Linked DNA regions of Homo sapiens. The protein of the gene in region 2 purifies or fractionates together with the protein of the main gene of each other region. This does not show direct contact. Each region holds a gene or a part of one and is shown on either strand. Other genes may lie near its edges.

Region 1 (7,024 bases), on a different chromosome or scaffold from region 2:
GGTGCAGCTTTAGTGCACTAAGTTTGAAAAGCTGAATGAAGCTTACTATAGTAAAATACCAGTTATTAAAATTGGCTTGCAGAAATTCGTCCAATATAAGTAAACAACCAATAGCAACCAGGTGTAAATAGTTTTATAGGCTAATTCTACCAAACCTTTAAGGAACATATAATTTCTGTGTTCTAGAACTTGGGAAAAGATGGAGAGTTCAAAACTCACACCGTATGCCTAGTATAACCTCAATGCCAAACCAGACGTGGCACGCACAGAAAAATAAAATCAGACCAAAGTCATTTGGAAAAAAAATTCCTATATTTATGATTCAAAACTCAGTTATTTTATAAAATAATAATATTAAGTGGATAAAGAAACGCCAGTTGTACTATCAGCTAAACATTAGAAACCTTCTCATCAGGCCAGGTGAGGTGGCTCATGCCTGTAATCCCAGCACTTTGGGAGGCCAAGGCGGGCGGATCACCTGAGGTTGGGAGTTCAAGACCAGCCTGGCCAACATGGAGAAACCCTGTCTCTACTAAAAATACAAAATTAGCCAGGCATGGTGGCACATGTCTGTAAACCCAGCTACTCAGGAGGCTCAGGCAGGAGAATTGCTTGAACCCGGAAGGCGGAGGTTGCGGTGAGCCGAGATCACGCCATTGCACTGGGCAACAAGAGCGAAACTCCGTCTCAAAAAAAAAAAAAAAAAAAATCAAAATCAGAAAGAAAATGCTTGTTAAAACTTACGTTATTCTCTCTGATTCAGAATACCTAGAGCATGGACTTGAAACTAGGTAGTTTACAAAAAACAAAACAGAAAACATTTGTATTATTCCATTTTATTTTAGAAGTCCTGGCCAATGCACTAAGCAATAAAAAGAATTAAAACGTATAAACATTGAGAAGAAAAAACAAAAATAGTTTTGCAAATGACTTGATTATGTACTTAGAAAATATGAAGGAACTGAAAATTTATTGTAGCCAGTAACAGGAATCAGAGTGTTTGCTGTAAGAGAAACAAAAAATTGTATATATCAGCAATAACCAACAGAAGCTGTAATGACAGCTGGGTACAGTGGCATGCACCTGTAATCCTAGCTTCCCAGGAGGCTGAGGCAGGAGGATTGCTTGGGCCCAGGAGTTCATGGCTGCATTGCGCAGTGATCAAGGCTGTGAATAGCTACTGCTCTCCATCCTCAGCAGCACAGCAAGACTCCATCTCTACAGAAAGAAAAGAAAGGAGGGAAGTGGGGAGGGAGAAAAAAAAGAAAGAAAGAAATTTAATGGTAGGTACCAAGGATGGGGATACCATTGACCAGAGAAAAGGAAGGGAGGGAGGGAGGGGAAAAAAAAAAAAAGAAATTTAATGGTGGGTCCCCAAGGATGGGGATACCATTGACCAGAGAAGGGGTAAAGAAGAAAAAATGATGGACAAAATATGTTTAAATGTTGGCACTATTTGGACTGACACTTTTAACCATTATTTACTCTTTGTTAACTGTTTGGAGTTAGTAAAACAAATACATTCTCTTTTGTTAATTCATACATAGATATTCTGCCTCCATGGTGGCCTCTCTCCATCCATAGACACACTGGATCATATAAGAGCCCTGGATCGTTTACAGGAAGTTCCACATGAGGTAAACTTAATTTAAAAAAGAAGAAGAAAGGAAAAGAAAATATAACCACATTTTGAGGATGATAAAGTATGACTGATAATAATTTGTAACATGTACTTATTTTTCTTGGCCAGGGCCCAATGTGTGATCTGTTATGGTCAGATCCAGATGATCGTGGTGGATGGGGTATTTCACCACGTGGTGCTGGCTACACATTTGGACAAGACATTTCTGAAACCTTTAACCATGCCAATGGTCTCACACTGGTTTCTCGTGCCCACCAGCTTGTAATGGAGGTATGTACTTTCCTGACAGAATGATCTTTATTTCAGATTAGTATATACTTCTGTAATAAGGCATTATGACTTAACTAAGAAACATTCCTCACCATTTATTACCTAGGTGAAAAGAGGAAAAACTTGCTGGTTTTAGCAAGTAGGGAAAGCACTAGTAGACCAGAGCAGAATTATAACTCATTTTTGAAATTGAGACTTAGAAAAAAGTTACAAAAATAGTACCCCATAATTCCCTGTATGCTTCATTCAGATTCCTGACTGTAAATATTTTACTATATTTGCTTTATCATTTTGTGTCTCTCTTCCTCTTCACCCCTCACACTTTCTTCTGAACCATTTGAATATCTGTTGCAGACAGATACTCCTTTACTACCAACTTTCTATGTGTATTTTGTAAAATTAAGGACACACTGTCACATAACCACCGTATAGTTATCACAGTTGGGAAATTTGTGTTCATATAGTACTGTTATTTAATATGAACACTTTATTCAAATTTTGCTAATTGTCTCACTAATGTCTTTAATAGCAAAATTTAATTTTTTGTGCATACTGTATGTGCATAGTCGAATCCAAAGATTAGGTTGTATTCATTCTACTTTGATGTGGAAATCCTCCGATTTTCATTGTTTTCCACATTCTTGACATTTTGGAAGAGTAGGAGCATTTTATCTTACAGAAATATCCCTCAGTTGGGGTTTGCCTGATGTTTTCCTTGCAGTTAGGGATTCAATGTATGCATTTTTGGCAGTCATGACATAGAAAGATGGTGTGTCCTCCTCCGTGCATTGTATCAAGTGGTCCTAAAATCTGCTTGTCTCAATGCTGGTGGTGGCAACTTTAATTGCTTAGTTAAGATGATGTCTGCCAGATTTCTCCACTATAATATTAACTGTTATACAACTACTAAGGGAACATAAACAACATAATCCCTGCAGACCAGTAGGGAGTGGCTTCAAGATGTTTAGAGAAAACTTCGCCAGCCCAGTAGAAACAAGGGAGCATGATAAAAAAAACACAAATTTACATAGTAAAAATAAATTTAATTATATCAGTGATTATAAGAAAGAGACTAAAATTTTAGCCTGAAAGAGACTCTTAGATTGGATAAATAATCAAAATTTAGCTGTTATTTGGGATGTACCTAAAACATAAATGATTGGCTGGACAAAGTGGCTCATGCCTATAATCCCAGCACTTTGGGAGGCCGAGGTGGGAGGATCTCTTGAGTCTTGGAGTTTCAGACCAGCCTGGGCAACATAGTGAGACCTCATCTCTATATAAAAAAAAAAAAAAAGTCAAAAAGTTAGCTGGGCATGGTGGCATATGTCTATTGTCCCAGCTACTCAGGAGGCTGAGGTGAGAGGGTCACTTGAGGCCAGGAGGTTGAGGCTGCAGTGAGCTATGATCGTACCGCTGCACTCCAGCCTGGGCAAAAGGGTGAGACCTTGTCTCAAAAAAACGAGGAAAAAGAAAAAGACACCACAAACTAGAGGTAAGAGTTGGAAAATGGTATATTGGTATATCAAGTAATTAATCAAAATATCAAAAATATAGCTAATGAGCTGGCGTGGTGGCTCGTGCCTCTATTCCCAGCACTTTGGGAGGCTGAGGCAAGCGGATTGCTGGAGCTCAGGAGTTCGAGACCAGCCTGGGCAACATGGTGAGATCCTGTCTCTACTAAAATACAAAAAATTAACCTGGTGTGGTGGCACGCACCTGTAGTCCCAACTACTCGGGGCTGAGGCAGGAGAATTGCTTGAACCCAGGAGTTGGAGGTTGCAGTGAGTCTAGATCGCACCACTGCACTCCAGCCTGGGCAACACAGGATGTGTGTGTGTGTGTATATACACACATACATACACTAATGTATGTATATATATGTATACATATATACACACATGTATGTGTGTATACATATATGCACACGTATATATACACATATACACACGTATACATATATGCGCACACATACATGTATACATACATATATACGTGTATGTATATACACATGTATATACACATGTATACATATATGCACACACATATATACATATATACACGTATATATACATATGTATATACACATACATTAATTAGCATGTATGTATACACACTATATATAATACTATAGCTAATAATATGAATGAGATAGGCTCTAATAAAAGGTATTATTAGAAATAAAGAGATTATTGATGAAAACTGGCCCAGTTCTCTAGGAAGAAAGTATTCTAAATTTGTATTTACCTAGTAATAGCTTCAAAATATATAAAGAAAAAATTGGCATAATTCATGAGGGAAAATTGAGAAATTAATTATGATTGTGGGAGAAATTCAGTACACATCCTTGCCAAGATTTCAAGCATAGATACGGCAAAACAACAATTAGCGAGCTGCATTTAACAGACTCCTAGGCCCACGAATTGCACAGTATTCTTTACAGGTACACAAACTATTAAAGATGGAGACCTTATATAGTAATATAGACGACTACATTTCCACAGAGAGTACCTGTAGTTTTTGAGTTTAGTTTTTTTTAAATGTGTCTGTGTCAAAATCATAATATTATAATGAAATAATGAATTTGTTTTTATCCTGCAGGGATACAATTGGTGTCATGATCGGAATGTGGTTACCATTTTCAGTGCACCCAATTACTGTTATCGTTGTGGGAACCAGGCTGCTATCATGGAATTAGATGACACTTTAAAATATTCCTTGTGAGTAACTGTAAATTTTAATTGTATATACTTTCAGAAGGAAAATTTTAAATGTTAAAAATAGAAGATTTCTGTTTCTGAAATTGGATGAGGAGTATAGCAAAGCCCCTCTCCAGCAAAAATAACCATTAGCTGGAGAACATTATTTTTAAAAAATAATTTTTCAAAGCTTTTGGAAATTGTCCTAAGGGCATACAGCAGGTGGAGAAACAGTTAATTCAAGAAAACCTACTAAATCTCAGTAATAATAGCCGTAGTCTGTGGCATTTGAGCTATGACTTGCCCCCTCCAACTCCTCCCAGATCCCTCTCACAGAAACGACTACAGGCGCTCTACGCTGGGTTGGTATAGTCAGGAGGCTAAGGGATTCCCCCTCTTCATCAGCTCCCAGGGCTGGGGCTGTGGGTTCACTCCCAGAGATCAGATGCCAGCATATCTCACCTCTCCTAGTCTGGAGTTACAAAAGCTCTACTCCTGGTAGACACAGTCAAGCAGGCTGAGGCCCCCTTCCCTGCCCCAGCTCCTGGGGCAGAAGCTCTGCTCCAGGCATGCATGGCAGATGAGAATGCTGGGTTTCCCAATGCTGTTACCCCAGCACCTGCTTATAAACCAGGTGGTATCACTGAGCCTGCACTGGCACAGAAGTTCTGCTCAGGAGGAAAGGCAGGTCACAGAAGTTCCTCAGCTCTGCCTCAGAGGACTTATCTTACTTAGGTGATGGAGAATTCCAAATCTGAGTGCTTTGTGGAAAGCAGTAGATGTCATGGTGGAGACCAATTAAGAGGGCTGTAATAGCTCCCATGATACTAGGAGCAACATACAAAAGAGCAGAGCAACATGTTGTTCAACAAATAGCACCAGGGAAAAAGCCAAGAAGAGCCCTTCTGGGATCACAGTCAGCCCTGGGGGACAAGAAGGCTGTGCACATGCACTAGCCATACCCACTCAGGAGCAGTCAAGAGTAGGATGTGGGGTATTCATATAATATTTTCAAGCCACACATAGATTGTACTGAGTTGAATAATGTCCCCCCAAAAAAATTCATGTCCACCCAGAACCTCAAAATGTGATGTTATTTGGAAATAGGATCTTTACAGATATAATTATTAAAGATGAGATTGTACTGGATTAGGGTGGGCCTAAATCCAATTCGAATGGGATTTTAGTAAGAGGAAAAGAAACACACACAGGGGAGAATGCTGTGTGAAGCCAGAGATTCAAGTGATGCATCTACCAGCTAAGGATTGCCAGAGCCATCAGAAGCTAGGGAGAGGCTAGGAAGGATTTTTCCTAGAGCCTTCAGAGAGAGCGTGGTCCTCCCAGCATCTTGCTTTCAGACTTGTAGCCTCCAGAACTGTGAGAGGATAAATCCCCGTTGTATAAGCTATACAGTTCGGTAATTTGTTACGGCAGCCCCAGGAAATGGATAAGTAGATTGATCAACAAATGGTGTAACCATCACTAGTATGTGAGGCTTAAACACAACCTCTCATCATTGACTGAACGACATTCAGTTACTCTGATCCAGGAGCACCTCCTAGGTAGTCAGGCTTTAAAATAAAATCACACTCATCCCTGACAGTCTGGCAGAATATGTGCATGCCCAAGGTTATACCCTCTCTGGACTGAGTGCAGTATGAAGATCCAACTATTAGTCCCTGGCTGAATGGGAAGCCAAAATATAAACTCCTTCAGCTTTGATAGCAATCTGCAAGTCACATAACATTTCCGGTGGCCATTAGGGTGAGCTTTAAGATCTAACTGGCCAAGGGGGCTTAAGTACAATCTTTGATCAGTAAGTGGCTTATGCCTACCCAGAGACAGCCCCTCAGTAGCCAGGCTGTGAAAGATTAAAAGAAGTAAAAACGGTCAGGCACGGTGGCTCATGCCTGTAATCCCAGCACTTTGGGAAGCCGAGGTGGGCGGATCACCTGAGGTCGGGAGTTCAAGACCAGCCTGACCAACATGGAGAAACCCAGTCTCTATTAAAAATACAAAATTAGTTGGGTGTGGTGGCGCATGCCTGTAATCCCAGCTACTCAGGAGGCTGAGGCAGGAGAATCGCTTGAACCTGGGAGGCGGCGGCGATCACGCCATTGCAGTCCAGCCTGGGCAACAAAAGTGAAACTCAAAAAAAAAAAAAAAAAGTAAAAACATCCGAGCAGGGCCACAGGGGCTGCACACTATGGGGGAAGTAGACTTTACAGTTAGTTCAGCTAAGTCACTAAACAAAAATAATAAACCACCAAAAAGACAAGATCAGTCCCCAAGGACATGAATTCCAGAGCTACTGCAATATGTTATCTATAATGTCCAATTTTTCAACCACAGATTATAAGACATGGAAAGAACAAGGAAGTGTGACCTCTACACAGGAAAAAACTAAGCAACA
Region 2 (7,572 bases):
TGGCTCTGAGCCAAACCTGGACTAAGCACTTTCCTTACCTCTGAAGCCACCCAACAACCCTGTGAAGTAGCAACTATTGTTTTCTTCCATTTTGCAAATATAGAGGTTCAGAGATGTTAAACTACTCACCAAAGGTCATGAAATTTATAAATGCCTGAGCTGGGACACAAACCAGGACTGTCTGACACCTAAAGCCTCTATTAAGAATCTCCAGACTGGCTTAGGTCAAAGGTTTTAATAAAATTATAGATATTTAATGTGCTAATTGGACAGGGTGACCCAAAAGTTTCCTGTGTAGGAAGCATTAGCCTAAGGAAGGAAGAGTGGGTATGTGAGTGTTGGGGGAGGGGACCATGACAAGGGTGGTTAAAAAAACGAATGTATCCACATGCTGTCAATACTGAACTGGGTAACATAAGAAGGCTGTGTATTTGTAATTGGCCTTTTCTATGTAAAGCACAAGCCTGAAATAGGTCAGTCTTTCAGAGTTCCCTCTGCTGCCCCCTTTGAAGACTATGGCCCCTTTTACATAAACTGTAAATTAGACACTAAGTTCCATGACATCAGAGACTGACTACATCTTATACACTGATGTTGCTGAATCTATAATCCTATCCCAGTGTCTGACATAGTTAAGTACTTGCACATTTGCTGAACATTGATGATGGTGATGATGACGAAAGTAAATACTCATAGTAATAGCAATGTATTTTTTCCACGTATTATCTCATTTAATCCTTGTAATAACTCTATGAAACAAATACTATTCATTTTCCTAATTTATAGATAAGAAAATGATGCTTTAGGGAGATCTTGTAACTTGCTTGAGGACAGAAAAATAAGTGACAGAAAATGATATCGGAGCCTTGGCACTTAACATTGCACTATAGTCTGTCGATATAGAATGCATTTGCTGTATTGCTAAGAAAGTTCACGTTATTAAAATTAGATGATAGAATTTAAGTTCTATGAAGAAAGAAATTCTGTTTTATATAAATCTATATCCTTGGCACCTAGAGCAATTCTTTTTTTTTTTTTTTCTTGAGAAGGAGTCTTGCTCTGTCTCCCAGGCTGGAGTGCAGTGGTGCGATGCAACCTCTGCCTCCCGGGTTCAAGCAATTCTCCTGCCTCAGCCTCCCGAGTAGCTGGGACTACAGGCGCGTGCCACCATGCCTGGGTAATTTTTTGTATTTTTAGTAGAGACAGGGTTTCACCATGTTAGCCAGGATGGCCTCGATCTCCTGACCTCATAATCTGCCTGACTCAGCCTCCCAAAGTGCTGGGATTACAGGTGTGAGCCACCACACCTGGCCAGAATAATTCTTTACATAATTGCTTGGTAAATTTTGATCGTATATATGCATACAGGAATAAATCGAACCAATTATTTCAATAGGAATACAGCTTATGAGCTAGAAAATTTCCAGCTCACAACAGATTATTTTAATATGAATTTTAAGAAGGGGGGAGGTATGAAACCTAAATATTAAAGTAAGATATTCAGCAATTTATTCATTTGTTTAAGAAATGTTTGTCTCCAACAAATATAATTAAGCATCTACTAAGTGACAGTTAGTCAATAGAAAAGATCTAGTGAGGCCAGGCATGGTGGCTCACGCCAGTAATCCCAGCACTTTGGAAGGCCCAGTCAGGTAGATCACTGAGGTCAGGAGTTTGAGACCAGCCTGGCCAACATGGCAAAACCCCATCTCTACTGAAAAATACAAAAATTAGCTGGGTGTGGTGGTCCATGTCTTAGTCCCAGCTACTCAGGAGTCTGACGCATGAGACTCACTTGAACCTGGGAGGCAGAGGTTGCAGTGAGCCTTGATCGTGTCACTGCAATCCAGCCTGGGTGACAGAGAGACTCTGGCTCAGAAAAATAAAATAAATAAAATAAAAAAAGAAAATAAAAATAAAAGATCTAGTGAAAATGGCCAACAATAATAAGTAAACAAATATTATAAAACGCTGTAGGACATGAAAAAGACAAAAAAAAAATGTGGAGGCAGAAAACACCGGAAGTCAGGACTATCGTGTGGTCAGGGAATGCCTCAACGAAGCAGGGACAGTTAAGAGGCTGAATGCCAAGACATGAGGAAGTGGCAAAGAACATAGCATGCGGAAATGCCCACCACTTTTGGAAAGAACTTGACATTTTAGAGGAAAAGAGAAGTGGCCAGTGAGTCTTTTGAAGACTGATCTCTGCAGCCTACTCCCATCTCCCCCACTCTCTCCCCCACCCCGCCCCCCAGCTCCACAGTGGTGCACAGGGCTCTTTTCACTCCCTTACCTCCACCACAGGTCGTTGTGTTATGGCACAGAGCCAACAGCTTTTTTCCCCTTGGTTTTGGGTGGATGAGCTAGTTCTCTCATATTAGAAAAGAGTAGTTGGCCAAATGGAAACCTTGAAATCTACTTAAACAATGGAGACCTATCCAATCTGCCTTCTCAGAACATGTGTCTTAGGAAAAATGCCTGGACTGTTGAATAAATGCAGGAGAAAGTTTGCAGCATATGTGAAAAGAAAAATAAATAAACCCAGAGACTCGATCTGTGGAAGGGACATTCTCCCCATTGGTTACAATGGAAAATTCCTCAAGCACAGCCTGGCCAATGAGCCTGGGCCTACCTGATTCATCACACAGCTCTGTCCCAATCTAGCCCTTGATTCAGAAAGATACAGGGGAAATTTTCCCAAATACTATTCCAAGGCCTCCTGAAACAATTTTAAGATCATTCCAACCGAAGGCACAATGTCTTCTCATCATTTTGATTCACTAAGAGATGAACTTAGCTTTTCCCCACTCTGCTCCTACTCCAAATTGTGCCAATATCCAAGAGAAGCTGCAATGTGTAACTACAAAAGGACTGAATGTTGGAACCTCGGTGATAGATACAGCTCATCCCATGGAAGAACCAGCCACGACAACTTGTACTGAAGTGGATTAAATCAACTTGTACCCGTCTTCACCTGTTACTAAAATTTTAAATGTGGATTTTGAACAAACAAGTGTATAAGTCTTAAGCACTAGATGAAAATAAAATAGAATCTATTGAAAGTTGAACTGAACTCCCCCCACCACACACACACACACACACACACACACACACACACACACACACACAAAATAACTATGTCAAGGAACATTTCTGCTCTTTTCTCCCAGGGATATGCAGTCAATTTCTGGAGATGAGGAAGATGTCATTTTCTATCTACCAGAAGTATCCATACTGCATGGAAATCTAATGACAATTCCCAACCTCAGTTAAGGACTTGTTTTTCCATTTTTCTGAACTTCAAATACTTTCTAAATTGTGTTAGCCGAAGCATTGTATGTATATAATTAACTCATAGGTCCCTCTGGGCCCATCTAGCTAAACTTGTGGAGCTTAACTGAGCAAAACATTTGCTGATGTCTCTCCCTACAGTGGTACCCATTGAAATGAATACCTTCTACAAGATGAAACCTAGGAAATGTCGTTTCCAATTGGCTTTCTACTGATTGGGGTTGATGTCTTTTCCAAATTGGCTTTCTAGTGATTTGGGTTGCTTCATTAAATGTTTTTGGTTGTTTCATAACAATAGTAATCTCATTTTCTTTCAAAAGTAGAGTTTGAAATTTGGGAAAACATGGGTGGGGAGGGAATTCTACATTTTCTTCCTAGTTGAAGTAGGAAGACAGGTCTCTTTTCTGTATTAATTGGACTCCTGAAATTCCCCCAGGGTAGCAGTGGCTCTCTGTGGGCACAGGGCTCTTATGCTTATGTTTCTGTGCTTCAATGTACCTTCCATGCTGACAGCAAATAGAAGGTGTTCCTGCACAAGCAAAACCTAACGGAGAGGCTGCAATAATTTGTCCAAAACGAAGTGCAAACTGCAAGGGAGAGTGGACTTTTTCAGACTGATCCTGTTTACTAGTCTGGTGCTTTCCTCCACCTGTGTAGACACAGATGCTTTATTGAACACCAGCCTCCTACAGTTAGAAGGTATTTTGACTCTTAGGAATGGGGGAACCAGTTGCAAAGTTCTGGCCCCTGATCCCCCTCCTATTCCTACTAGAGGGCTTAAGATAGGCTCTGAGCGGCACTTCCCACTTTCTCCTCTTTTTCTGAAGCTTCGAGCCCCAAACCTCGCCCTTTAAATTCACCAAGGGACCACATGCATCATATAAGGGTGAGGAAAAGGGACCTGGATGTAGACTTCCTGACTATCCAAAGGAACCTACTTCTCTTTGCTGTTCTCAAGTTCAGGCGTCCGGAGAAAGGCAGGGAGCTAGGGGCTCTGGGTGCTAGCGTAGACGTGGCCCTTAGCTGAGTGGCGCGAGAGGGGAGGAGGTTGGAAGAGCGCGTCTATGCGTTCCACCTGAACCTGCAAGCTAGTCGCTTGCTGCCCAGGTGCCGATTCGCGGCTGCATGCGCCCCACTGCAGCAAAGAGCAGCCGCAGCCTCTGCCTCGGCCACCACTGCTGCTGGGAAAGAGTCGTGGGGCTGCTGACGCGGTTGGGAGGAGCCTCGCCTTTAATGCACCAGCCGCCTCCAGCCTCCTGCAGCAGCAGCAGCAGCAGCAGCAGCAGCAGCTGCGAGTGCGCGCGTGTGGGTGTGAGGGTGAGTGCGCTGGCGCCGGCTGCAGCGCCCTGCCCAGCTCCCCGCCAGCTTCCCTACCCCCGCCTGCCGGAGCCGCCCTCCCGTGGGACCAGCACCCTCATTCCGGCCAGGCAAGCCTGAATCCTGTCCCTGCCATCTCGCCACTGCAGCTCGGGTCCAGAAAGGCACCATTTTGTCGCGGCTGCCCGCTCTCCCAGGGGGAGGAGGGATCTTTTTTGCATTTTGGAGCGGCTGCCAAGGAGGGGAACCTGTTGGGCATCTCCCCAGACCCGCTTGTGAGCGCCTCCGGGGCGGGCGGGCGGGACCAGACCCCTCGGGGCACGGCGTATCTTGGCACCCGGAGGCAGCGGAGGCAGGCGCAGCATCCTCGCTGGGAACTGGAGCTGGAGTGAGCGCACCGCGCGGGAGGAGCCGCCGCAGCCTCGCAGAACCCGAGTGGAGGAGGTGACAGCTCCATTGCCGGGTTTTTATTTTTTTTCTCTCCGCCTCCCCGTCTCCTCCTCAGGCTCGGACCATGGTGCAGTCCCACTGGCTCCCCTGCCCCCCTCTCCTGTGAGACTGGCTGCGGGGAGGGATCATGGATACTTGTCTGCCGGCTTCTGGTTCCCACGCAAGTAAGCCTGCTGTCAATGGAGGAGGACATTGATACCCGCAAAATCAACAACAGTTTCCTGCGCGACCACAGCTATGCGACCGAAGGTAACGCCAGCCCCGCCGCATTCCGCCGTTGGGGCCGGGCGCAAGTTGCGGATCACTGTGCTTCCTGGGCAGCTGGGCGCGTAGTGGCGGAGACTCCTCCGGGCCCTAGGGCTGGGGCGGGGGCTCGGCTGGCCCCGGCAGCCCCAGTGCACCTCGCATCCATCCGGGCTCCGCGAGGCGAGCTCGGCGTTCAGCAGCAGGTGGACCCGGCGCCCACGGGAGTTAAAATGGCCCTCAGGGATTAGGCTTTTTCAGGGTGGGGCTCTCGCCCAGAAAGATGACCCCAGGAAGGCAGATGACCCCTTCCCCGAGATGTTCGCAGGGGTCTTGGGGGGAGATAAGAAGGGAGGGGCCCAGTAGGACCTTGGTCCCCCCTCCCTGAGCGAAACGATGTTATGTCTCTCAGTGGCTGCAGGGAGGGCAAGGTTTCATTTCCTGCCCATTCATCTCCCCGGCCGGCCAGGTTACCTGCTTAGACAATCAAAACCCCAAAAAGCCCTTTGCAGACGGGCGAACCTCTTTCCTTTTGGAAGTGCATTAGCAAAAATAAAAAGGTGGCTGGGGAAATAGTGCTCTGGCGGGCAGCGAATGAGGCTGACACGTGGGGTGAGCAACGCGATCGGTGGGGCCTTTAAAAATCACCATTATGAATTCTGCAGCAGTAGTTTCTGCTGAATCAACAGCCAGCAGAAAGCAAAAGGGTTCAGCAAGCTGAGCTTTGCCAAGAGGTGAAATTGTCGTCTCTCCCTCTCTCCCAGCTTGTTCTGACATAAGCACTAGTGCTGTGCGGGCAGGAAGGGAAAGTCAGCAGGTGGAATCTCATTCTGCCTTTTGTGTGTGAATAGAGAGTAGAGGCATTTTTTTCCCCCAGTGCCAAAACTTTTGCATTTTTGCTTTCATTTTCTACCTGTAGGCCTTTTATCCTTAGCCACTCATACAAAGTGTTGCATTATCACATTGTAATATCCATGCGAGAAAATGTATGTGGAAATGCTTTAGGACAATGTTGCAAGGTGTATTAATTTAAAATTATTATTCTTGGATGCTAACATTTCTGTAATATTTAATCAAATCAAAAGACTGCTAGAGAAATGTGATGGGGGGAGTAAAAGAGTTCAAGCTCTGAAAGAAATAAAAAGACACACACACATCTGGGGGTAAAGGTGGCATCTTCTATAAACATCCCTGGAAGTTCTAGACAGAAAGAATGTCCAGTGCTATTGAAAGTATATTCTCCATTTGTCATCATTTTTGGAGAGCATCAAGCCCAGTATGCCCATGGTGCTAGACAGATAAAGCAGAGTTGTAAGCTCTGGCTTCCAGGAGCTTAGAGATGGCTTTTAAGATGTGCAGCCCATCCCTCCCCTATACAGAGCACCATACTTACCGATTCTTTTTCTGTGCATGATGGCAACCTGATTGTAAGATGTTCTCCCTCAATCTTAGTGCTTTGTCACTGACTCAGTGACCTGATAGCACATGACTAACTCTGTATCTAAGCATGTCATCCAAGAGAGAAGTTGGCCTTGGGTCTGTTGGCTTTTGGGGGAACATTTATTTCTGTTTGTAACCACAAAGAAAGAGAGCTGCCTTCATGTTTTCTTGTATATTACATTATGCAGGCAAGAGAAACTTAGCAAGCTGAGAAAATGCCCAGAGTGGAGCTATGTGTACAGGAGTGTCAATTGTGAAGTGAAGAAATCAGTTAAAAATGGCATTCTTTATTGTTTTCAGGGCCCTGGATATTACCGTTGTTCTTATTTTTATTCCATTTTTGAAAACTCTGATTCTGGATAGAATATCTAGGTTCACATAGTCAAAAATAGATATGAGTTTATAGCAATGAGATTTCTGGCATGTGAGAATCAACCTCTCAGATTTCTTTCTCTTTCTCAAACACACACACATACTAATCACACTCAAAACTAACAAACCTTTATTTCACAGAAGCTTCTAGGTTTTAAAATCTGATCTTAGAGAAGGTATGAAAAGAAAAGGAAAATAGAACTTAAACGATGTAAATACCAGAAGTTGGATAGAACAAGAAGTTCCCTACAGTTTTGACCTATTCGTTTCAGGGAAGATTCATGCAATTTTGTTGCCAGAGGGGGAAGAGTCCCTGTTCTTCCAATGAATTCCTTAAGAAGTGTTAGTATACCTTGAAAAAGCACCAGATCAAAAGACTTTTTAAAAATTCTCCTCACTGGGGACTTGCCCCACAAGTTTTCTTCCCCCTTATTAACTTATACCCTCTTACTGGGTGGG
Region 3 (7,690 bases), on a different chromosome or scaffold from region 2:
GGAACTTTCAGAAATTTTCTGTAAGTAATAAAAATTATTAAAAAGCCTCATAAAAGTATTATTTCTGATTTCAGATAGACCCACTCCTCCTCCTCCCGCAAAAGGTGTCAGATAGCTGAACCTCAAGTTCTGCATAAACTTAATTCTTCCTATCACCACCCAAATGGCCTCCAATTATTTGATGGACAGAAAGTCAATATAGGCTAGTTATGTTGAAGAAGGTGGTAATGGTGGCCTCTCTGAGAACCTAGTTCTGGAAGTTAATTTTATAGGACTCATTTGGATCAGTAATACCTAAACCCCAAATTCAATTTTTTAGAATACATTTAAAAAGTACATACTTTGGGTACTAGCTGGATTTGAGCAGTAAGTTTCTATAGTCCGGTATTGATCAGTTTCAAAGGAGATGGGTTGCCTGGGCCTTGAGGACTTCACATTCTTTTGCTAATGTGTTTAAACTAAACTTCTTTCCCATCCAAGAAGTTTAAGGAATTGGCAAAAAGAGAGGAGTTCTGACTTTTAAAAGTCAGAAATGTAGGACTCACAGGTATAGACAGGTATATAGACAGTACATACTTTGGGTACTAGCTGGATTTGAGCAGTAAGTTTTTATAGTCCGGTATTGATCAGTTTCAAAGGAGATGGGTTGCCTGGGCCTTGAGGACCTCCCATTCTTTTGCTAATGTGTTTAAACTAAACTTCTTTCCCATCCAAGAAGTTTAAGGAATTGGCAAAAAGAGAGGAGTTCTGACTTTTAAAAGACAGAAATGTAGGACTCACAGGTATAGACAGGTTCTGACTTTTAAAAGTCAGAAATGTAGGACTCACAGGTATAGATGGAGTTTGACTGAGGAAGGCCTTGGCAAGATCTGTGAACTTATGGTAAGGCCATTGCTTTATTAGAAGTACTAACAATATCATTTATAATACAAAAGACTGGGCTAGCCTCTTGACCACATAAAGTTAACTGACTCCCACACTGGGGTATATATTCCTGTTGACAGGTATGCCATTTATTCCAATGTATGTTACTCTAGACTGGTCAGCACATTGTGGAAATAAAGGAATTTAGCAGACTCTAGAGATCACCTCAAGATTTTTTTTGGAGACAGGCTCTCTGTCACTCAGGCTGGAGTGCAGTGGCATGAACACTGCAGCCTCGACCTCCTGGGCTCATGTAATCCTCCTGCTTCAGTCTCCCGTGTAGATGGGACCACAGGCAGGCACCACTATGTCTGGCTAATTTTCTTTTTTTTTTTTTGGAGAGACACGGTCTCACTTTGTTGCCCAGGCTGGTCTTGAACTCCTGGGCTCAAGTGATCCTCCTGCCTCAGCCTCCCCAAGTGCTGGGATTACAGGCCTGAGCCACTGCACCTGGCCCAAGATTCCATTTTTCAAAAATTAATTAACTTATTGTTCTAGTCTCTTCATTCCTATCTTCTCTTTTGATAATCTAACCTGCACATTATTCTAGATTTTCAAACAGAACTCTAATCACATTATTCTACTCCAAAAAATTTTAACAACCCTCCATTGTCTACCAAAGTAACTACAAATTACAGCCTGGCATTCAATGATTTCCACAAAAATAGCCCCAATCTACCTTTCCTGATTTATTTTCTGGTATTACTCTCACAGACATATACACCCACAAGCTCAGTCCCTCTGCAGGCCCTGGTTATTAGGAAACAGTGGGATAGTACTGGTTGCTGCCCCAGAGCCAGCCTCTCATCCCAGCAGAGAGGTTGGGAAGTGAACACTGCTTCATCATTTTTCTGAAACACAGATTTGATGTCATGCTCTTGCTTAAAACCATTATACTGAGATATTTTAAAACTTAGGATCCATAGACCAGGATGTGGCTAGAATATCAGGGTTCTGTGAACTTAGACTGGGAAAACAATTGCATCTTTGTTTTCAATAATCAGTAGCTGAAATTTAGCATTTCTTCAATAAGTGTGGACCACAAACTACAATATTAGCACTCTCTTTTTTACCAATAGAAATCTGATATTTTCACATCACATTAAAGTTGCTGCAGGCATTTCAAAATATAATTTATAGTCATCACTACTTAGAAATTATATAATTAGACCTGCTGCCAGATTTTATTTAATGCATAAAGTGCATATATATCACACATTTGTTTTAATATTTTAAAAACTTAACAAAATTAGTTTCCTTTATATTACTACGTATTCTATTTTATATATTTAAGAACATTTTTCTGAGACTGAATCTATAAGGTGGACTGCCAACAAGGTCCACTGGGTAAAAGAGGTTAAGAACCTTTTTTGTACTTATTAATTACTTCTAGTAATATAATCTAAACTCTTCACCATGGAATTCAAGGCTCCTCATAATCTGTTCACACCCACTTTATCATCTTCATCTCTGTCCCACCTCTACTCTCCATACTATGCTCTAGCCATACTAGACAACAATAACTCGTTCTTATCTGGGTCTGATAGACAGGTTTTTGGATTAACCCTAGTTAATAGATAGCAGCCATACACTGTCTTGGTCTTTACCTCATACAGCTTCTCTGCCTGCCAAGTGAATTCTTTGTTTAAAGGCCTGCTTTCCCTAATACGGTAATTTTCCATCCTAATTGAGCTGTATTTTAAATATCTTTATATCTCATTACTAACTTAAATGATAAATAATAGAAAAAGATTCTAAATTGGCAAGGCACTGTATGTAGTAATCTCTATGAGAGTGGATGTTGGTCTTTGCATCTCATAAATTGGCTTAGCTCTGGATGTTGGTCTCTGCATCTCATAAATTGGCTTAGCTCTGATCATTTTGGGGACAGAAGTGGGGATGGCCTTTGAGCTTTAAGGCTGGAGACAACAGCTGACCAATCCTGGACGGAAGGGAACGGGAGAGCAAAGAGACAAGTAACTAATTTGGACCTGATAAACACTGAGGAATGAACAGTGCTGAAGAGAAAGGCAAGAGTGGCTCCTTCTCCCATTTCCCAGACCAGTTATTCCAAACATAACGCCGCTCAAGTTTCTCATTCCATCTCCAAGCCTCTCTGTAGTTAAATGACCTCCATCTTTTTTTTCTGGGGGCGGGGACGGAGTCTCGCTCTGTCACCCAGGCTGGAGTGCAGTGGCGCGATCTTGGCTCACTGCAAGCTCCGCCTTCCGGGTTCATGCCATTCTCCTGCCTTGGCCTCCCGAGTAGCTGGGACTACAGGCGCCTGCTACCACGCCCGGCTAATTTTTTGTATATTTAGTAGAGACGAGGTTTCACCATGTTGGCCTGGATGGTCTCGATCTCTTGACCTCGTGATCCACCCGCCTCGGCCTCCCAAAGTGCTGGGATTACAGGCGTGAGCCACCGCGCCCGGCTAAATGACCTCCATCTTAATGTTACAGAGCCAACTGTCTCAACTTCCTTCTCTCTAGTTTAGTGAGTCTCAATCTTTAGCATTAGAGTCACCTGTGGAGCTTTAAAACAGTAATGACACCTGGCACAACCCAGAATTTAATTGGTCTAGAGTGGGGCAACAGTATTGGTTTTATTTAACAAAAAGTTTCCCAGGTGATTCAAATGCACATACAAGGTTGCGTTCCACTAGTGATCTTGATCTTATAAATTAGCCTCCCTCACCCTCGAAGAGGCCACTTCTCGGTTTCATGGTACGCTTTTGAGTCTTCTACCTAAACAGAAAACATTCCTGAGGGCCATATTCTCGTTCCTCATTTCTCTAACTTTATAACGATGCTTCTTTAAAGGGAAGTCTACACTAGTACGGTTTCCATCAGGTTTATTTTACTTCTTTTTTCTCTTTCAGACCACCACTGTCACATGCTCTTGCGCCCGTTATTCTGCTTTTACCTCCTTTCGTATTTCTTTGACCAGGTACTGGATTACTAGTCTTTTAACACAGTCCTCTAAAAGTGACCCAAAAGTCACCCTGGAAAGGGCTTCCTCACGTTATCCTCCTACACAACCTGGGACCCCTCTTCTGTGCGCAGACAGCATCCCGTGCATTTTTCTCTATTGTCACTTTATTGTACTACCACTGCGGATTCTCTCACGGTCTCCTATACAAAAGCACTTCAAAAAGCTGACACCACTTAATTCGCCTCTGACATTCTGGAACCCAAGGCATGGAAACCACTCAGTGAAAAGTCTGAGAAATGAATGGAAACGGAGGTCGGGGCGGGGACAATGGAGGGGGCAGTGGGTGGAGAGAGCGTGCGTGTTTGAAAAGGGGCGGGGGCTATGACCGGCGGCGCTGAGAATCCAGGTCCAGAATCGGGAGGGAGCACGGATACGCCAGAATCTGAGTGGGTGGGAGAGCGATCCACTGCCGAGACAAACCGAAGTGGGGAGGAGGCTTCTTACCTGCCTCGGGCCTCACCACCCCAACCAGCCTTCAGGCACCTCTGTGTTGGCCGGAAAGCGACAGCTACGGTCGCAAACTCAGAGGTTTCGTCCCCAACCTTGCGACATCCCTTTCCAGTACAGGGAGAATCTAAAGCTGAGTTCCCTGCTCTGCCGTAAGGTGAAGAAGAAAAAATTTGGGCGGGGCCGCCTGGGGCGTAGGAAAGGGGGCGTGTCTGCGCAAGCGCACGCTGTACTCTCCAGTGGCGTCACGTGCGGGGGCGGGACAGGGCGGGGCCGACCCGTGCTGGCAGTAGGGGGCGTGGGAGGTAAGTGCGCGCGCGCCTGCTCGCCTGCAGCCGGGGAGTCGCGCGGGGCGGGGCCGCGTGCGCGGGGTCGGGGGCGCGCGACCGAAGCGGATAAGGGACGCGGCGGCGGTTGGCTGTGTCTGTTGAGAGAGTACAGGACAGCCCGGACTGCGAGAGGCGGCGGCGGAGGCAGTAGTTGCACCGGCAGAGGCGGCCGCTGGCAGCGGTTGAGGCGGCGGTCCAACGCGTGCTCTCTGGGCGGGGTGCGGCGGGGGATGTGCCTGCTCAGGCCGGGCGGAGTCTCTCTGACAGGGCGGGGGATGCGCCGCGGCCGCTCGCCCGGACCCTGAGGCTGCTGGGCCCACCCTCCCGGAACCGTCCGACCCTCGGTGGCCTCGGCCTCTTCTGCCATCTCCGGTCCTACCCTGGGGCGGAGGGTGGAAGGCAGCTTCCGTCGAAGAGGAGGGGGCTGCGGTGGCCACCGCGGCGGAGCCCGAGGTAAGACCCGCCCAAGCGCCCAGCGGCCCTGCAGCCCGTCCTGGCCCACGTCTCAGCCTCGCTATTTGGCTCCGGTCGGGCCGCCCCGCCCCGTCCCAGCGGAGACGCCCCGCGAGCGGGTCTGCGCCGAGCCTCCCAAACACCAGATCACGGCCCCGGATCCCCAGTAGACCCCACCCCCTGTATCTTCCATTGGCCGGGCACCATTCCGGCCCTCCAGCCTCCCCGGAGATTCTGTCACGGTCCCCCCAACCCAGCAGACCCCATTAGTACCCCTCAGAGTCCCTTAGGACTCTTAATGGAGCTTCTAGACTACGTTACATCCTCCCTTGGGCTGACGTGATTACAGTTCTCAGGCAAAGTCTCGACCGCCCCCTAACCCATTGCGTCCCCCATGTGCCCCTCGCCCTACTCTTCTTAGTAGAACCCCTCCCAGCTCGCTCATCACCAAGCCGACTAGCACTAACCCTAGCCATCACGGCTTTCAGATAGCCGCTGTCATGGTGTTCTTACTCCCGGTAGATGTGGTGTCAGTCCCTCTAGACACCGTCACAGACTTTGGCTTCTCTCCCACCACCGACTGTAGCCTCTCTCAACAGACCTCTCCTCAAGCAAACCTTGTTATCTTTCTCCTTAGTCGCGATCCTTTCTTTGGTTGAAAGGGCTTTGCCATGAAATCCTGAGGGAATATTTGCTTAGCCTAATGTATTCCCTCCATTGTGGCTTAAGGGGACCGACCGAGACCCATGTTTGGAGGGGTTGGGCTGAAAAAAGTGGGAGGCAGAGTGAAGTTATGGAAGCATGAGGCCAGTTGTGTGTGTGCCATTATAAGGTCACAGAGCCTGCACCTCGTCTTGTCTGTTCTGTGTAGAACGTGTGAGGTTGTCCAGCACTGATGTTTTAGGGACCTCTGTAAGGATTAAATCACGTTGCACTAGTGGATATAACTATGTCGTCTTGTAGTATTACTTCACCTCCTTGTCGATTGCTGCAGATACTAGAACTGTTTCTTATTTTTATTTTTAAAGGATACTAGGGGACTTTTTTTGGATTCACTGTTTTTTGGATTTGCTAGAAAAATAAGATTTGTAGCATTCCTTAATCCCTGAATGCTTCGATGTCGGTTTAATAATAAACTTCTGTTGCCTGGTGCTGCTGTCTTGCTTCTCCAAGAAGCAAGTACAGAAATCATGCAGTGTTCACTGAGGTCATTACCAACAACAGCCTTCTCAATAGCAGTAAAATGTTGAATAAAATGTTTGTAGAAGTTGAGCTCCTGAGTTGTCAAGAAAGAAATGTAATGTTGCATCAAATGATCAGTACGTAATTTTAATATTGGTATAAAGATGAAATATAAAGAGGTCTTTGTAGTCATACACACACACACAGTAAAAAATGTTAAAGTAACAGGAGAAAATCACATTAAAATTATAGATAATAACTAGACGTAAAAGCCAAAAGTTTCGGAAGAGTAATGTAGTAAAAATTTCTGTTCCGCCTTCACTCTCCAGCCACCCATTTTTCCTCTTTAGAGGCAACCACTATTTCCAGCTTCATGTGTATCCTTTCTGTGATATTTCCAATATATAAACCTACACATTTATATTTTTAAGACACTGTACACAAATGGTTGCATACTTTACATTCTATACATAGCCTGTTTTTTTTACTTAATACTACATCCTAGAGGTCATTTCTTAACAATACATATGGAAGTGCCTCATTTACTGGCTGGATAGTATTCCATTTTTGTGGACTGGAGGTTATTTTTGGTGTTTTGCTTTTACCAACAATGTTACATGCTTTTCTTTTAAATGTGTCTGATGTTATATGTATGTTTAAATAATTTTGTGAGTTGAAAAAAATTCCTGATGATTCTTTTATGTTGAACCTACAGAAAGGATGTAACTAAATTTCTCATTGAACCTCTGAGCTTCCACAGTGTGACTAGCTGTGATGATGATTATAATATTTATTAAATTATTGAAGGATTTTAAAGCAGGGGACTGGAATGATCAGATTTGCATTTTAAAAAAGTCATTCTGGCTGCAGTGAATTGAAGAGTAGAATAAGACTAAAGGCCAGGAATATTAGGGTTATCCAGGCAAATGGTGAGACTGGATCTGAACTTGGATATTCGGAGTTGAGTTGGTGATTTTATTGTATTTGGGGTTGGGGAGAAGTTGCATACAGGATAAAATCTAGGTTTCTGGCTTGTGCCTTTCACTGAGGTGGGGATTCCCATGAAGGAGTGGGATTTTGTTTTTATTTTGTCAAGGAGGAAGGATAGAGGGGTTAATTTGTGACATGTTCAGTTTAGGTGACTGTAGTTCTGTCAGATGTAGATGACCATTAGGCATTTGGATTTGTGGCTGAAGCTCAGTATCAGGTTCTGGGTTGATAGCAGTAGATTTTGGAGGCAAAATCATACAGAAGGGAGGAGAAAAGGTTTTAGGATGGAAACCCAACATTTAAATTACAGGTAGAGTTGAATATTTAAATTAGTAAATTACATGATTAAGTGCCTTTAAAAAACTTATTCT

What was found.
Region 1: the proteins of PPP2R2B (region 2) and PPP2CB purify together in Homo sapiens (affinity purification with mass spectrometry; 5 studies listed by BioGRID and IntAct, with this or other methods). This does not show direct contact.
Region 3: the proteins of PPP2R2B (region 2) and MYO9A purify together in Homo sapiens (affinity purification with mass spectrometry; 4 studies listed by BioGRID and IntAct, with this or other methods). This does not show direct contact.

Annotation. Positions count from the first base shown.
Region 1 is NC_000008.11:30,788,805-30,795,828, reverse strand, and holds part of PPP2CB (serine/threonine-protein phosphatase 2A catalytic subunit beta isoform), read left to right. Parts: intron 1-1,547; coding exon 1,548-1,637; intron 1,638-1,750; coding exon 1,751-1,912; intron 1,913-4,513; coding exon 4,514-4,632; intron 4,633-7,024.
Region 2 is NC_000005.10:146,875,737-146,883,308, reverse strand, and holds the start of PPP2R2B (serine/threonine-protein phosphatase 2A 55 kDa regulatory subunit B beta isoform), read left to right. Parts: upstream 1-4,551; 5' UTR 4,552-4,718; exon of another isoform or gene 4,719-5,113; coding exon of another isoform or gene 5,114-5,237; coding exon 5,238-5,307; intron 5,308-7,572. UniProt on the Homo sapiens protein: The B regulatory subunit might modulate substrate selectivity and catalytic activity, and might also direct the localization of the catalytic enzyme to a particular subcellular compartment.
Region 3 is NC_000015.10:72,115,137-72,122,826, reverse strand, and holds the start of MYO9A (unconventional myosin-IXa), read left to right. Parts: upstream 1-4,676; 5' UTR 4,677-5,147; intron 5,148-5,614; exon of another isoform or gene 5,615-5,634; intron 5,635-5,660; exon of another isoform or gene 5,661-5,976; intron 5,977-7,690. UniProt on the Homo sapiens protein: Myosins are actin-based motor molecules with ATPase activity. Unconventional myosins serve in intracellular movements. Regulates Rho by stimulating it's GTPase activity in neurons.